2 linked regions of the Homo sapiens genome follow. The protein of the gene in region 1 interacts with the protein of each later gene in a pairwise test. Each region holds a gene or a part of one and is shown on either strand. Other genes may lie near its edges. The genes, in order: GUCA2A and TRAM1.

What was found.
Region 2: the proteins of GUCA2A (region 1) and TRAM1 interact in binary tests that used the Homo sapiens proteins (3 or more experiments, as listed by UniProt).

What each region holds. Positions count from the first base shown.
Region 1 is NC_000001.11:42,162,127-42,166,351, forward strand, and holds GUCA2A (guanylin precursor), read right to left. Parts: upstream 2,620-4,225; 5' UTR 2,587-2,619; coding exon 2,512-2,586; intron 1,485-2,511; coding exon 1,277-1,484; intron 845-1,276; coding exon 780-844; 3' UTR 564-779; downstream 1-563.
Region 2 is NC_000008.11:70,572,401-70,575,073, forward strand, and holds the end of TRAM1 (translocating chain-associated membrane protein 1), read right to left. Parts: intron 2,606-2,673; coding exon 2,532-2,605; 3' UTR 818-2,531; downstream 1-817. UniProt on the Homo sapiens protein: Involved in the translocation of nascent protein chains into or through the endoplasmic reticulum (ER) membrane by facilitating the proper chain positioning at the SEC61 channel.

The sequences.
Region 1 (4,225 bases):
CAAGGTCACAATGGGAGCACTGAGACTCTTCCTGGGGGGTTGAGCAAGTTGTCTTGAGGAGAGGCCGTGGAATGAAAGCCTTGGACCCTGAGTAGGAGTTTGCCTGGACAGTAGTGTGGGAAGACGGGCAGTGGAGAGGTGAGCAGCAGCAGAGGAAATGGCAAGAGGTGTGGTTTGGGATGTGGTCAGGGCTGGAGGCCACACTAGCATGGCTGGTGGGAGCCAAGTCCTTGAATACCCAAGAGTTTGGTGCCAGTCTTCTAGTGGGCCAAGTGCCTGTATTGGTTGTCCAAACCAGCTCAGACTGGCTCCCGTGCTCACATGTGGCTCAGTGAACTTGGTGACCTCAGGAGATGTGAAATAAAAGCAAACCCTCCCCACCACCCGCTGCCTTGGTGGTTTGGAGATCCAGATCCTCTCCACGCCTCTGTGTTGTGGCAGCCCCAGGGACAGTGAGCAGCTTAGCAGGGAGAGTGGGGTCCTTCGCTTAGTACATTACATCCCGAGCTTCCAGGGCAGGATAGACTAGGGGATGAAGGAAGGAAGGAAGGCAACACCCAGAGTACTCTGGAATCTGGTTTATTAGCTGGGGGTTGAAGTGGCAGGGAAGGACAGTGTTGGGGCGAGGCCTCCAGTCACCCAGTTCCTCCCCGGGCTGCTCCTCCCGACTGGACCAGGGTAGGTTGAGCTGCTGGGAGTGGAGTATCATGGGTGGCCCTTTCTGCAGGAGAAAAGAGCTTCCCTGCTGCGGAGGGGAGGCAGGCAGTGGGCAAGCCCCCCTAGCATCCGGTACAGGCAGCGTAGGCACAGATTTCACATGTGCCCGGGTCCTCAGCGATTTCCTCTGCACAACAGAGATGGAGCCTCGTGAGAACCAGCATTTCCTCGCGAGGCCCCTGCCGCCCTTGGCCCAGAGCTTGTACGTCACCACCCAGCCCCAGGAGAATCTCAGCAGGCCCGTACTCTGACCTACTGGGCTTTTCGCCCCAAACCAGGGCACACAGACCACTCAAACCAACCAATCAAAGCAGAGATTCCACCAGAAAGAGAGGAAACTAAGACCAGATGAATGGTCTTAGTTCCCAAACCTCAGCAGTTACAACTTGGAATTGAAGTGGGCATGGAACAGACCCACCAATCAGAGCCAAGCTCCCTAGTTCCACCAGTCAGAGCTGAGCCCTTCCTCCAAATCCCACCAATCAGAGCACATCTCTTCCTCAAGTGCCACCACAGTATTCCCGAACCCCACCAATCAGAGAGGAAGGAGGCTGCTCACCCAGCCTCTGAAGTATCTCCTGGGCATTGGGCTCCTTGCAGAGAGGCTTGAGTTCTTCTGGAAAGTTCGGGTTGCTACAGAGGATGGGAACCACAGGTTCACCAGGGATGGGTGCAAAGTTCCTGAGTTTCCCAACCCTGGGCTCCTGGGGCTCCTGGAGGTCTTTGAGCTTCTTCACTGACTCCAGAGAAAAGGAGAAATTTCCATCCTGGAAGAGAGAAGCCCAGAGCATGAGGCCAGGCTGCAGCCTGCTTCCTGGCTGTGCCCCCCGTGCTGGCCCCGGTCCAGCCCAGTGGTGCTCACAGGCAGTGTTCGTGGCATATGGGAGCCAGGCGATCCACAGTGGGGCACTGTGAGGGGCAGAGTTCAGGCCCCACGTCCTGGCTTGGCTCCGTGATGCTGGACACTCTGGAACCCGCAAATTCTGCATGTTGTATGGGGAATGGAGAAAATGGGTGTGAAGCTCCAGGAACACCATAGGTGCCTAATGAGTAGGAGCCAGTGTGCTGATTTTTAGGGAGAGGCAAAGGACCAGCACCCAGGCATCGTAGTTCCACGTGGCCAAGCCCAGGCTGTCTTTCCCCTGCCTGAGAGCGGTGCGGCTGATTACTGGGCCCCCAGCTCCAGCCTGCAGCCTGGTTTTGGTTTGAGAAGCAATAAAAGGCCTCCCGGAATCTGGCTTTGATAGAGATCAGGGCCCCCGCTAGGTGCCAGCTTGGCCTGTCGCCAGCATTGGCACTGGTAGGCATACCCATCTGTCAGGACCTCCAGGGTGTCCATGTGGTTCCTGGGACCCACTGAGGAGTAAGGTCTGGATTTAAATCCAGCTCCTGCACTTCCCACAGCCATGTGCCCATGGCCTGTTACAGAACCTTTGTGAGGCTCAGTTTTCCCCTCTGTAAAATGGGACTAATGATCCCTTTCTTCCAGGTTGATAGTGGAGCCACAGTGAGGGGCTGGGGAAGGAGCCGGCACATAGGACACTCAGTAAATTGGCCAACTCCCCGCCTTCCCCATATGGTTATTCCTCTTCCCTCCACTGGGTTTCTTTCTCCTCCAAAGTTGAAGGGAAAGGTGTGTGTGTGGCTGGACTGAGCAGGAGCTCCTCGAAGAAGGCCAAGCCTGGGACACACACCCTCAATCCAGCCCCAAAGAGGAGGTACTCTCTCAGGGGACCAGACCTGGGCACTAGGGGCAGGGAGCCAGCTGGGCCGGGGTAGGGACACAGGACTCACCTGCACGGTGACCCCTCCTGCCAAGGCGGCCCAGGCCCCAAGGAGGCACAGTGCGGAGAGCAGGAAGGCATTCATGGCAGCAGTGCCCGAGAGAGGGGTGGCTGTTCTGGATGCCAGGGGGAAGCGGCGGGACTTTTAAAGAGGGCAGGTTACTGAGTAACCTGGAAGCCTCTGTCAGTCTCATCTGCTCACCTGTCAGGCCTTATCAGATAAGGCTCGAGACAGCCCTAGGAGATAAGAGCCAGGCAGGGGGGGCCCCGGCCCCTCCCTGAGCACCTACTTTGACCCACAGCCGGGCTGGGTCCTGCATTCATTCACCAACAAGGCACATTCACTCACGACTGCCCTGTGCTGCTGTGTGGGGCCGGCAGACCCTGCCCTTGAGGAGGGGGGCCCAGCCCGACAGTGAAACGCAGGGCGATTAGGGTGGGGTGATCCTAGGATGAGGTGACGGGGCTGCACTGGGGGCTGAGCTCTGGAGAATGGGTGGAAGTTTTCCCAGAGAAGGGACTGAGGACAGAAGGCCATTTCATGCCAAAGGGACAGCCAGGAGGTGAGACGGGCCTGGAATATTCAGGGAAATGTGAGAAATTCCACGGGGGAGGCTGCAGGGCAAGTCAGGGTCTGGGTTTGATTGCCGCGACCTCAAGGAAGCCCTCCGCACAGCCTGGGTTCCGTTCCACCTACTGCCCAGTTGTGAGGCGTGTGAACTTGGGCCAATGCTTTCCCCTCTCTGAGTCTCGTTGTCCCTTGTGTCCCCTGTGGGAACCAAAAATAATACCTACCTCATGGGGTAGGTGTGTGGTAGGCATTACTGTTTGGAGAATCAAGTGAGGTTTTAAAAACATTTAGCTCAATGCCTGGCACACAGAAGGTGCTCAGCAGAGGTCCATTCCCATATTATTAGCAGCCACAGCAGCTCCTGGTCCTCCCTGGCCCCTCTGGTGACCTCCTGCCTGTCTGAGTCACAGGCTGTCCCCATCCTGTGCTGGTCCCCATCCTGTCCTGCCTGCCCTGCAGCCTCAGGGTGTCCTCGAATGAGCTCCTCCCCAATCCGCCCGCCCCCCTTGCCCCTGCAGATACAGTCCCCTTTCCGCGGATCTCACTGGGGAATTGCTTGGGTGTGCCCGCGCCCCTATAGACTCTGACCCCATTCAGACTGCGCCCTCAGGGCAGCGTGCATTCACTGTGTGCTGTTGTGAGCAGGAATCCCCAGGACACAGGAGAAAGGGTAGCCCTGGGATTGTCATCTTTCTACTCAGCCAACCTGGCCCGATGCCAGGACAGCCCTAGGGCGGGAGGTTGGGCAGGAATTCCTGGGTGGGGAGAGTCAACACTGAAGAGGGAATTGGAGAGAGCAGGGCCTGACCAGGAGGGAACTGCAGGGACAAGGCCCTCAGGGAGGGGCAGGTAGCTCCTGGCCCAGCTCCCAGGGCAGTCCTCACAGCTGCACTGGATTTCCCACCCCTTTCTGGTGAGTGTGTGTGTGTGTGTGTGTGTGTGTGTGTTAAGGGGGGGTGTGTCTGCGGAGATGTGTATGTCTGTGTATGCCAAGGTGTCTGTATATACCCTGATGGGTGTGTGTAGCCAAGGTGTGTTTGTATGTGTGCTTGTGCTGAAGGTGTGTGTGTGCTGAGGCATGTGTGTACACTGAGGAGTGTATGTGTATATATGCTGAGGTGTATGTGTGTGTATGCTGAGGGGTATATGTGTG
Region 2 (2,673 bases), on another chromosome or scaffold:
AAACAAACTCACAGAATCAGAGTGTAGAATGACGGTTACAAAGGCTCAGGGCTGAGAGGAATGGGGAGATGATGGTCAAAGGGTGTAAAATATGGCAGAAGGAATTTTTTAGTTCTACTGCACAGCATGGTAAATATAGTTAATAACAGCATTATACATTTCAAAACTAAATTTCCATGTTCTCATCACAAAAAATGTTAAGTGTTTGAGGTGATGGATGTTAACTAGCTTAATTATTCCATTATACTCATAAATCATAACACCATTTTGTACCCCCACGTACAATTATAAATTGTCAATTTACAGTTAAAAAAAATGCAGGAGGCATTTTGTGGAGGGAAAGACTAAACCCCAGAGTAGCAAAGCAACTAATTCATGGTCCCCCCGGGTTTAAGACAGAGCCATGAGCCTTGTCCAGGTGTGGGTCCCTACAGGATTCCCATCATGCTTTGAAGCTCGACTTGAGCCCAGGTGATAATGGCAGGCTCTGCAGGATCTGGAAGCCAGTACAGACTTTCCTCAGCACATTTGAGAGCAGGATGTAGGGCTCATAATTTATAATCATACTTGTGTGTATATGTGCTTCTGTGTATATATTAGCCCTTGGTAATGACATGTCAAGGGCTTTTTTTTTTCTTTGCCTAAACACAGTGTATGCTGCAGAAAACAAAGTGCTATAGTAATTCAGTGAACAGAAAATTCTACAGGCAAATAAGGTGGGAAACACTGCATATTATATCCAACATTCTTGGTGCACCAGGAAACACGTTTGCATATTAAGGACTGAACGGTCCCATAATAAAGAGACACCTTTAGGTTAGTTTAATCCAGTGATTCCCAGATTTATTTGGTTATGACCATCTATCCCCCCAGTAGTCCTCACCAATATTCTGTGGAACAAATCTGTTTATTTGCAGAACACAATTTTGAAAAGGGTTATTCTGAATGTCTATGAAGTGTTTTAAATATGGTACATTTTAATGAGGTTATATACCAAAATAGCCTAAACACCAACAATGACAGAAACATCCAGGATACAACTTGTGAAAGTAAAAATTTTTATTTTGATTGATTTCTCAATGTATAGTTCAGTATAATGCCAGTTTTTAATGGCAAAAATTTGGTTCCACTGAAACTCCATAATGCTACAGAGAGCTACTACTTTTTCCAGGAAGTAGGTTAACAGCTAGAAAGAAAAAGGACAATTTCCTAGCAGCATGGCAACTTAAACTGCAGATCTAATAGGTCTGCAACTTTTACACTAAAAATGGCACAAACAGCTGGTGACACAAGTGAGAAATGGGGAACAAGATGTGAACACTGAAAAGAACAATATATATACTGTAAATATGATGAATAAACCAAATGTAGCTATAAGAATCTTAAAGGATGATTATAGAAAAGGGAACCAAATATTTTCCTCAAATGCTTTTTAGAGCCTTTCTGTAGAGATACAAATATATATATATATATTTATCCAAAAATATGTTTTATACAGATAAATGTTTCTCAATTAAAGATGGGACCAAAGCTATAGGTATAACATAAAGCACATTGTCTTTTGTAAGACTATTTATCCACCTGAATTTTCAATTTCTTTAAAGTTAGTGCATTAAATGTTTTCCAAATATAATTACCTGTCAGTCTTTTTATAGATATAAATCAAGTAGGCATTATGTTTTAAAAGTGTTTGCAGGTTAAACTTTTCTAAGATGCTGTGCATATTAAACTTATTATGAGCCCCATTAAGAATCATTATTAATAAACATATCAAAAAGGGCTATATGTCAGATTTTCCTGTTCATAGTAAATATTTTCTGATTTCCAGTTTACAAGTATTGAAAATGCACAAGAAAGATTTTACTTCACAAGTACTTTTAAGAATATACTTTGATTTAATATGTATGTTAGTAAAACTCCACGTGTTGTAACGATTATTATGTTTTTGTTTTTAAAATGGGGATGTAATACTAATAACCACTACCTATAAAATAAAGCACACAATTGTTCCGGTGATTTTACAAATCTTTTTTTCCAGGTGTAAAGTCTACAAAAATTCCAAAAAATTAGAGAACACTGAAAACATATTAAAGTTTGACATCCAACTTTATAGTATTTCCATGTTACCCTGAAAGATAACTTAAAAAATATGGCCTTCTTAGAACAGGCCACTCTGCTATTATAAAAAATTGGTGACAGCAAGAAATTGTATCACTGATATGTGGAATTTTTGTAAATAGTTTTCTCTCCAAATCATTAGAAAAATGTTCAAAAATAAAAACAAAATAAAATATGGTGGTGGTCCCTAAACTATTTTGAAGGCAGGTAGCTTAGTCTAAGCTAAAATATTTTTTTCATTCATAGCAATAATCCTCCCCTCAAATGCCCTTTAAAAAAATGCATGAAACCGTACAATAGCAAAAATCAAAGAGCACAGACTGTATTTTCAAGAACAGAAAAATCTCTAATGCTGAAAGATATAGTAGAAAGCAGATTTCTTTGGGGACATTAATCAATTAGTTTATAATTCATTATGAAGATTTCTCTTTTTTATTCCGGGGAGAGTCTGCTACATTTGAAGTTAATGTTCCATTCACACCATTTTCTGCAAAAAGAAAAGAATCCATGTTACTCTCTTTTATAAATAAATGCAAGTTATAATCTTTATATGTA